Regions from separate parts of the Homo sapiens genome. Here region 2 is linked to region 1. The links come from fine-mapping of genetic effects on gene expression. A gene starts in region 1. The other region holds a variant in brackets. All regions are shown on one strand. Distances are from middle to middle.

Region 1 (4,401 bases):
TACTCGGGAGGCTGAGGCAGGAGAATTGCTTGAATCCGGGAGGCGGAGTTTGCAGTGAGTGGAGATCATACCACTGCACTCCAGCCTGGGCAACAGAGCAAGACTCCGTCTCAAAAAAAAAAAAAGAAAAGAAAAGAAAAAGAAAAAGAAAATATTTTGTTTTGTAAAAATCTCACTACTTTGTCCACACTTTTCTCAATTCACCGAGTATTCATGAAAACTTCAGTGTGAACCAGGATTTGCACCCACTGGGTAAGGAAAGAGTCTTGGGTCCAAGAAGCTGAATTCTAACCTTGTCTCTGCCACTAAGTAGTGGCACATCCTTTACTAAGACTCTACCTCTCTCTGGTTTACTTTAAGAGCTCATGAACCAACCTAATGGTATATAACAAAGAACAGGGCCAAGAGGGGAGATTTTCCAGGCCCTTGGAGGAGAATGGCAGCCTTTTCCCAAACAGGGAACCATTAAAGCAATCCATGAGCACTTAGCATTAATACCCCAGTTCACGAACCTGAGTTTTGAGCAAGAGCACTAGGCAGAATAGGGAAAACAGGGCTGCAGTCCTCTGTCTACCATTAACCAGCAGCCAGGGAACAGGGCAAGACCTTTAGACTCCCTGGGCCAATCTGCCAACAGTAGACTCAGACCAGATGTGGTCTCATCTAATCCAACCTCCTCATAGATGCCCTCTGAGACTCTGCAGCCGTGGGCACAGGCCAGGAATGCCTCCCCCACCACCAAGTTAAAATCCTACTCATTTAAAAAAATTCCTGTTCAAATGTCACCTGCTTTGTCCGGCCCACCTGGTCACTCCCTCTACATTCTACAGATAACCTCTATTAGAGCCCTCACCACGCTGGAGTGTAATCATCTGTTTATGTGTCTCGTCTCCCAGACTAGACTCTCAGCTTCTCAAGGGTGTTGTTCTTGCCGCACTGGAATTTGTACACCTTGCCCCGAACAGTGCCTAGCACCTACAGGTGCTCAAAGAATAGAATAAACGCATTAATCAATCCCTAATGTCACCCCCCAGCTCTAAAATGCTAGGCTTGACATTTTGAAGTGCAAATGAGACAATGAATGTAAAAGTTCTTTTATTTAGTCGTTTAATAATGTGCATAGTACGTACCAGTCACTGTGACTGGTGCTGGAGACCTCAAGATTGTAAAACACAATCCCTGCCCTGCTGGGACCCCACAACTATGAAAGCGTGTAAACAGTATTTCAAGAAGGGCACCATTAGAGCCTGGTTCCACTTCTCCCCTCACTGACTTCCTTGCAGCTGCAGCTCTCTGCCTCTTTCCCCATGAGCCCTCAATCTGTCCTCAAGCTGCGACCTCTGTCCCAGTTGGCAAAAGTGCAAAATTCTGAAGCAACCACCCGAGCCTGTCGCGGACAACAAAGCCTGCAGTCCCGCGCCCCACTACCCGGACCCCCCTCCCCTGCTTCGGCGAATGTAAAAGTCCGTCTGCACCGAAGGGGATCCCCCCTGCCCAGTGAGCCGCGGTACAGTCCCTCCAAGCGCCGCCCCGGGGGAAGCCGGGCCTTTACTTGCCGACGCCCCCGCTTTCTAAACGGACCTTCGGGCCCGCTCGGGGAGCACAGAGTGTACCTGCGCGGCCCGCTGCTCCTTCCAGTGCTGCATCTGGTCGCTGGCGGGATCCCGGCTGTCAGCCATAGCGTGCGGTTTGCTGTGCAGAACACTGCAGGAGGCCTCGGCTCGTGGGTCTCCACCCTCAGCAGGCAAATCTGCCTGTTGCCCCGAGTCCGTGGCGACTTCAGGCTCAGCCAATCAGCACCACCCCCTCGTCCCGCCCCCTCGGGAGGACTGCCTTCTGATTGGCTGCTCGGCGCTAGGCAGGCCAAGATTGGAAGCCCAATGGGCTCGGAGCAGGGCTCTCCGAAGGAGGCCTGAAGACCGGAGATACCCAGGAGGGTGCGGAAAGGAAGGGTCCCGCTCTGGCCCAGCAATTGGAGAGCCTCGCCCCGCCGGCCCGGGGTGCCCGGGATAGCCGAACCCAGGGCGGGGCTCCCGGTTATCAGCATCCTTCAGGCCGCCCTGGGACGCGGCCGTTGGTGGCCTGCCAGTTTTGCAGACGGAATACTTAGACCCTGCTGGGTGGGGCCTTGCGCTCCATAGCTATGCTTTCTCAGCTCTTAAAAAGTCAGCAATCCTGGGTTAAATTACTCTGTACAAAATTAAATTTTGCCATACGCTAATGTAAGTATTATTTGCAACCAAAGGATGGATGGATGCTTTTCTTTTTCTTTCTTAGCTCTTCTTAACTTATTCGTGGATTATCACTTACTAGACTAGTATACTAATTATTTAATATAAAAACACTCTGAAACGTTTATCTCCGTACAGATGGGTGTTGATTTCCTCCTTTACCAGAGAAAAACAACTTAACTTAGATGGGAAAAATGTATTCCCTTGTGATGGGAAAAATGTATTCAACTCTGGTACACTGCCAAATTGGCTTCTTTAAACACTGGAGAAATCTGCTTCCCCAAATTTTACCCCCAGGTAAGCAGGAATTTTGAAAAGCTTTGTGTCTTTAAAAAGCTATGTTGAAGAGTAAAATACTTAGTAATATATAGTACAATATTTAGTAAGTTACTGACTAGTTTGTCATTGTAATCAAAGAGTTTGAATGATTTCTACACCTCCTCAGGTGCTAGGATTTATCTTTAAGCACCTTAATATATATACATAGTATATACCATCATCTTCAAATTAAAAGTTATCAGCTTTTAATTTTTTCCAGTACAACTACATATAATGGGTGGATATATAATAGTGGAAACTTCACATGTTGTTCTTGATCTTACAAAAGTATGATAAGAATCTTGGGCATAAAAGTGGAACTTTAGCAGTTCATTGGAAAAGAAAGCCACAAATTGATCTTTAGCACCCTATACTTTTCCTATATTAAAAACAATTATAAAGATGCTGTTGGCTGTGTAATTTGGTGTCTTTTTCTACCTGCCCGATCCATACTGCCAAGACTGTAAACTCCATGTGGGTCAGGATCCTCCCATCCATAATTTATTGAGCACTTACTATATACCAGGGACTATTCTCAGCTTTTTGTATATTTGCTTAGTTAACCCTCCCAACAACCCTATGAGTTAGATACTAATATTATCTTCATTTTACAGATTAGGAAACAGAGGTATAGGGAGGTTAAATAACTTGCCCAAAGTTACACAGCTATTAAGGGATAGTCAGGATTCTAGCTTCAGCTGTTCATCTCCAAAGTCCACAGTTTGTTGAATAAATAAATGTTGAAATAATCGAGCAAATCATCTTCTTAACTAACCAACACAAATATCAACAAAATAAATAAGAGACCTGGAGTCATTTCTTAACCTTTATTCATTATATAAAAAAAAGCATGTTTTTTTTTCCTTTGTTTTTGTTACTATGGATTTGAATTCCTAAAGAATTATTTCTAGAGAAAGAAATGGAGAAACAAGACTGGTTTCTGATCTTGTCATATCTTGTATTTTAAAATAAAGGGCAGGCTTACAAGTAATGACAATAAATTTATAATGTTACATAGGAGGCTGGGTGCGGGGGCTCACGCCTGTAATCCCAGCACCTTGGGAGGCCGAGGCAGGCGGATCACTTGTGGCCAGAAGTTCGAGACCAGTCTGGCCAACATGGTAAAACCCCACCTCTGCTAAAAATACAAAAATTAGCTGGGCGTGGTGGCACACGCCTGTAGTCTCAGCTACTCAGGTGGCTGAGGCGAGAGAATCACTTGAACCCAAGAGGCGGAGGTTGCAGTGAGCCAAGATTGTGCCACTGCACTCCAGCCTGGGTGACAGAGTGAGGCTTCATCTCAAAAAAATTAAAAATTAAAAAAAGTCACATATTAGGTGGAAGTTCTATCGACTATAATTACAGCTTAAATGAAAACACTTCTTAAAATCAGCCCTAGTTAAAAAATACTTGAAACCAAACCAATACAATTACCTAAAGGTAATTGCAAGTGATTGGTTAGGTAAACAAATTGGGTTCTAGGTTTTAATATTTTAGTCATATGAATTCATGGGTATTTTTATTGATATAAATAAAAATGTTATTTTAAAAATGCTGTTCTCTGAAGTCAATTTTCAGAACTCAATGAAAATAAAATATACTGGCACAAGACATACTGTTATTAATCCTGGTATCAACAAATTTGAAACCAAGCTTGCAAAGTAGACCATGTAACAAATGTTCAAGAAAAACATTTGAGTACTCAGCTAGGAATCTTTATAGACAAATTTTATTTCATCAGTATTGCAAGAAAAGAATGGAGAGAATGAACATCATGTGTTGTTGGATGACAGGCATACAAGACAGCACAAGGGGTAATTACTCTGTTCTGATTCCACCCATCCTCAGAGAG
Region 2 (4,401 bases), 45 kb before region 1:
TACCTTCAAAGCCATCACTGCAGAACTAGGAACAGACAGAACAGGGTTATCTCGGCAAGACCCACGGAAGAAATTCCCATCAGCCTCATAAACCCCTCTCATGCTGATCTGTACTGTGTTCCTCCTACCAAGCCAGATCCCCTTCATCCAAAACATGGGAGAAATCATTAAAATCAAAAGGACAATGTTTTTCCTCCCACTTCTTGCCATTTTGGCATTTCAGTGAACGCTTGTTGTCTATTCACACTTAATAATTCACCTTTGTTTATGACTCCATTTGTTTTCTCTTCTCCTAAAAGATTAAATCAAAACAACAGATCGATCTGGGGGTAGTAATAGACATATCTCATAAGGGTGGGGAAGGTTGAGTGAGCATCTGACAATAGCAAATGCTCAACAAATCTTAGCTAATAATGGTTCATTAAATGTCTATTGAACACCTGCTGTGAAAGACATGATAAAGTAGTAGTTATGAACATTAGCTTTGCAATGAGAACTCTCTGGTTCCACCATCTGGAAAAGATTCTTAAGCTCTCTGGACTTCCAATCCCTCCTCAATAAAATGAAAATCATAATAGTATCACCCAGGGTTGTTATAAGTTTGAAATGAGATACTCTATGTGAAGCCCTTACCAAGCACTTGGCATTTAGTAAGTGCTCCGTAAATATCAGCTGATAGTGGAGGAGAAAAAGAGATGGATCTTTCCAGTAAGGTAGGCCCAGTGTTGTGATACCAAGGAACTCACAGGTGCTCTCTATGGGGCTCATAAGGGGTCTAACCCAGAGGGTCAGTTCAGAGAAGGCTTCCTGAAGAGGTCTTGTGAGAGGTCCGCTGGGTAGAAGTGGAGAGTGGGGAGTCTGTGCAAAGGTCCTGAGGCAGAAGAAAGCCTTGCCTCAATGGAACCATTTGACCTAAGGGAAGGGAAAAAGTTGGGAAGCAGAAAGAGATAAGACTGGAGATCTGGATGGGGGTCAGTCTGTGAAAGGCCTATCTAATGTGCAGCCTTCATCCTGGAAGAAATGGGGAACCACTGCAGGATGTTCAGCTGGCGAGGTGACATGACCCAGTGGCACTGAGAGAGGTCACCCTAAGCAGCAGTGTGGGGCACAGGATGTCATTCCTGCCCTTCCTTCATTCAGCAGTGACAGTGTACATACTAGACGATGCAGCAGGGATAGTTGTACAGTATAATATAGTATAGTATAGTATAGTATAGTATAGTATAGTATAGTATAGTTAGTATAGTGTAGCACAGTACAGTATAGTTAGTATACTACAGTACAGTGCAGTATAGTTAGTATAGTATAGTGCAGTATAGTTAGTATAGTATAGTACAGTAGAGTATAGTTAGTGCAGTCTAGTTCATATAGTACAGTATGTACAGTAGAATACAATATATGGTACAGTATAGTTAGTATAGTATAGTACAGTTATTACAGTATAGTGTGGTATGATTAGTATAGTATGCTACAGTATAATACAATATAGTGTAGTTGGTACAGTGCAGTATAGTTAGTATAATACAGTACAGTATAGTATAGCACAGTACAGTATAGTTAGTATAGTATACTATAGTATAATACAATATAGTATAGTTGGTACAGTGCAGTATAGTTAGTATAATACAGTACAGTATAGTATAGCACAGTACAGTATAGTTAGTATAGTATACTACAGTATAATACAATATAGTTAGTACAGTACAATACAGTTAATATAGTATAGTACAGTATAGTGTGGTACAGTAAATATAGTATACTACAGTGTAATGCAATATAGTATAGTTGGTACAGTACAGTACAGTTAGTATAGTATAGTACACTGTAGTATGGTGTTAGTACAGTACAGTAATAGAATAGTTAGTATAGTGCAGTACAGAACAGTGCAGTATGATATAGTATAGTATAGTTGTCATGGTATACTACAGTACAGTCAGTATAGTTAGTATGGTATAGTGCAGTATAATGTAGTTGGTGTAGTATAGTATAGTACAGTATAGCATAGTTAATATAGCATGGTACAGTACAGTATAGTTGGTATAGTATGCTACAGTACAGTATAGTTAGTACAGCATAGTATGTACAGCACAGGATAGTTAGTATAATATAGTACAGTATGGTGTGGTATAGTACAGTATAGTTAGTATAGTACAGTATGGTGTGGTATAGTACAATATAGTTAGCATAGTACAGTATGGAGTGGTATAGAACAGTATAGTTAGTATAGTGTGGTGCAGTACAGTTACTATAGCATAGCACAGTGGCTGCTCGATGATACTGAGCACCTACTATATGCCCGGCAGTGTGCTAGGTGCTGCAGGGTTATGTTGGGAAACACAAATCCCTGCCCCCTCGTGTGCACAGACAGACAGTGAACTTCATGAATAAATACACCATAGAATATGCTCGAATATTCTATGTAAAATGC[G/A]GAGCAGTGGGGAGGATGTGCAGACCCAACTTGAGTGGTCAGAGGAGACCTCACTGGAAGGTGATTTTGAAACAGGATTGAGATGAGGGCGTGCACCACAAGTATCCAAGGGAACAACGTGCAGGACAAGTGGAAGAGCAACTGCGAAGTCCCTGATGTGGAATGTGCCTGCACGTTTCTGGAGAGCCTGAAGCCAGGGTGGCTGGGGCAAAGCAAGCAGGGGGCTAAGAGAAGCGGTGGAGACGAGTGTGAGCTGGAGGGGCAGATCTGGTGCCACCATTTTAAAAACTCATATACTACTCTGGCAATGCTTGTCCTGGTGTCTCAGGTTGTGACTCACAGCCTGAGTTATTAGTTAAATCAGCACGGAGTTAACGTCTTGCTTTCTACCCTTCATAAGCTCTAGTCTCTTTGCTTCTACTTGTGTCTCTTCCAGTCTGTTCTCCACACAGGAGCAAGAGAGATCTTCTTAAATTGAGGATCTTTGCTCTACACTTTGATATAAAGTCCCAAGTCCTTACCATGGCCTCCTAGGAAGGCCCTGCACGGACCTCGATCAAAACCAGATTTATTTATTCTCATCAGGGTGGGGTGAGATTGAATACAAGTGCTCCTCAAAGGCACATCTTAAAGCATCTTGACACCTGCCACCTAGTAATCACCCCCAAAGTGCCTAATGTGGTGTCTTCTACTACAAAGGCATTCAATTAGTATTTGCTCATTTGGGTATGACTTGAGGTCTGAATGTGGCCTCTATATCCCTTTCCACTGCTATAAATTATTCTATTTCAGATGCTGATTCCAACTGCTTGAAAACAAGTGGCATCAAAAGTCAAGACTGTCACAGTCATAGTAGAACAAGTAAGTGCAGGATGCCAGTTTTCATTCTAATTTCTTAAAACCATTCCTCAGACAAAGTCATCTACTTTAATAAGCTTTGAAACTAAATGTTTGAGTTGGACCAGTTACTCCCCAAGGAAGGTAGTAAAGAAATCAGTGATTGCTTTTATACGTATTATCAAAGTCAGATTGATTTCTTCTCATACGAGTGGGTGAGATTAAGCATCTGACAATAGCAAACGCTAAACAAATCATAGCTAATAATTATCCATTAAATGTCTATTGAACACCTACTATGAAAGACATGATCGTAGTTGTGAACATTAGCTTTGGAATGAAAACCCCCTGGGTTCAAGTTCTGGCTCCACCATCTGGCGCCAGATCCAATCCTGGGTCCACTGTGGCTTCATCTCAGAGGAGGATAACAAAGAAAACACCGGGAATTGGCAATCCTATTAGCTTCCCCAGCACTAAGAGATCGGCCCAGAGCAGTGTCAAGCTTGTAATTTCACAAATGTGTGTGTAGAAAACAATTGCTATGTGCTGGGCATAATTCTAACCACTTGGTATGTATTAAATCATTAAATCCTCTAACCTGTCCTAGGAGACAGGTACTCTTTATTATCCCATTTTATAGATGAAGCAACCCTAAAAGTTTATGGTTATAAAGGTAGGAAGAGGTGAATTCAGGACCCAGACTCAGATAATGGGACTCCAGAGCTGGTCTTAACCACCATATCATAGAATAAGAGAAATACCAGCCTTTCATGAAAAACGAATTTGCAGGATCAGTCCACCCAGACAGTTGTGGCTGTGGAATCAGTACAACCATGCTGCCTGTCAGAAAGAAGAATGAAAAGATCATTTGACTGTCATTTCACTCATTCCATAAAAGTTAAACTGTAGTTCCATAGAACATCTGTGAGTCACAGTGTTGCCAGTCATGTAAATTGGGTGTCTCTGAATGTGTGTTTCACAATTGCTTCGATGGGAGACACAGACATGTCACAGCTCAGTAAGTTTCCAGGTAGAGCAATCAGTCATAACAATGGGAAATATTCCACAAAGCAGCAATTCTCATGACCTAGTGAGAAATTGTACATCTCTTCTCTTAAAATTAAAAAAACAAGCTG

The links. PIP is the estimated chance that this variant, and not a neighbour inherited with it, causes the effect. A credible set is the group of variants that fine-mapping cannot tell apart.
Region 2: its variant is the best candidate, but not a certain one, in a credible set for the expression of CAT in lung (TOPMed, PIP 0.72).

Annotation. Positions count from the first base shown.
Region 1 is chr11:34,436,292-34,440,692 of GRCh38, reverse strand. CAT (catalase) reads right to left here and starts at 1,759. Exons shown (of 13, transcript NM_001752.4): 1 at 1,614-1,759. The coding sequence starts at 1,679. It overlaps LOC105376622 (a long non-coding RNA gene), which reads right to left. Exons shown (of 3, transcript XR_931180.3): 3 at 4,371-4,401. RefSeq lists enhancers at 1,427-1,726, 1,897-1,946.
Region 2 is chr11:34,481,319-34,485,719 of GRCh38, reverse strand. It overlaps ELF5 (E74 like ETS transcription factor 5), which reads left to right. Exons shown (of 7, transcript NM_001422.4): 5 at 3,221-3,289. Among named protein-coding and RNA genes, the nearest start is that of ELF5, 30 kb to the left of the region's middle. The variant G/A (reference allele first, on the strand shown) is at 2,429.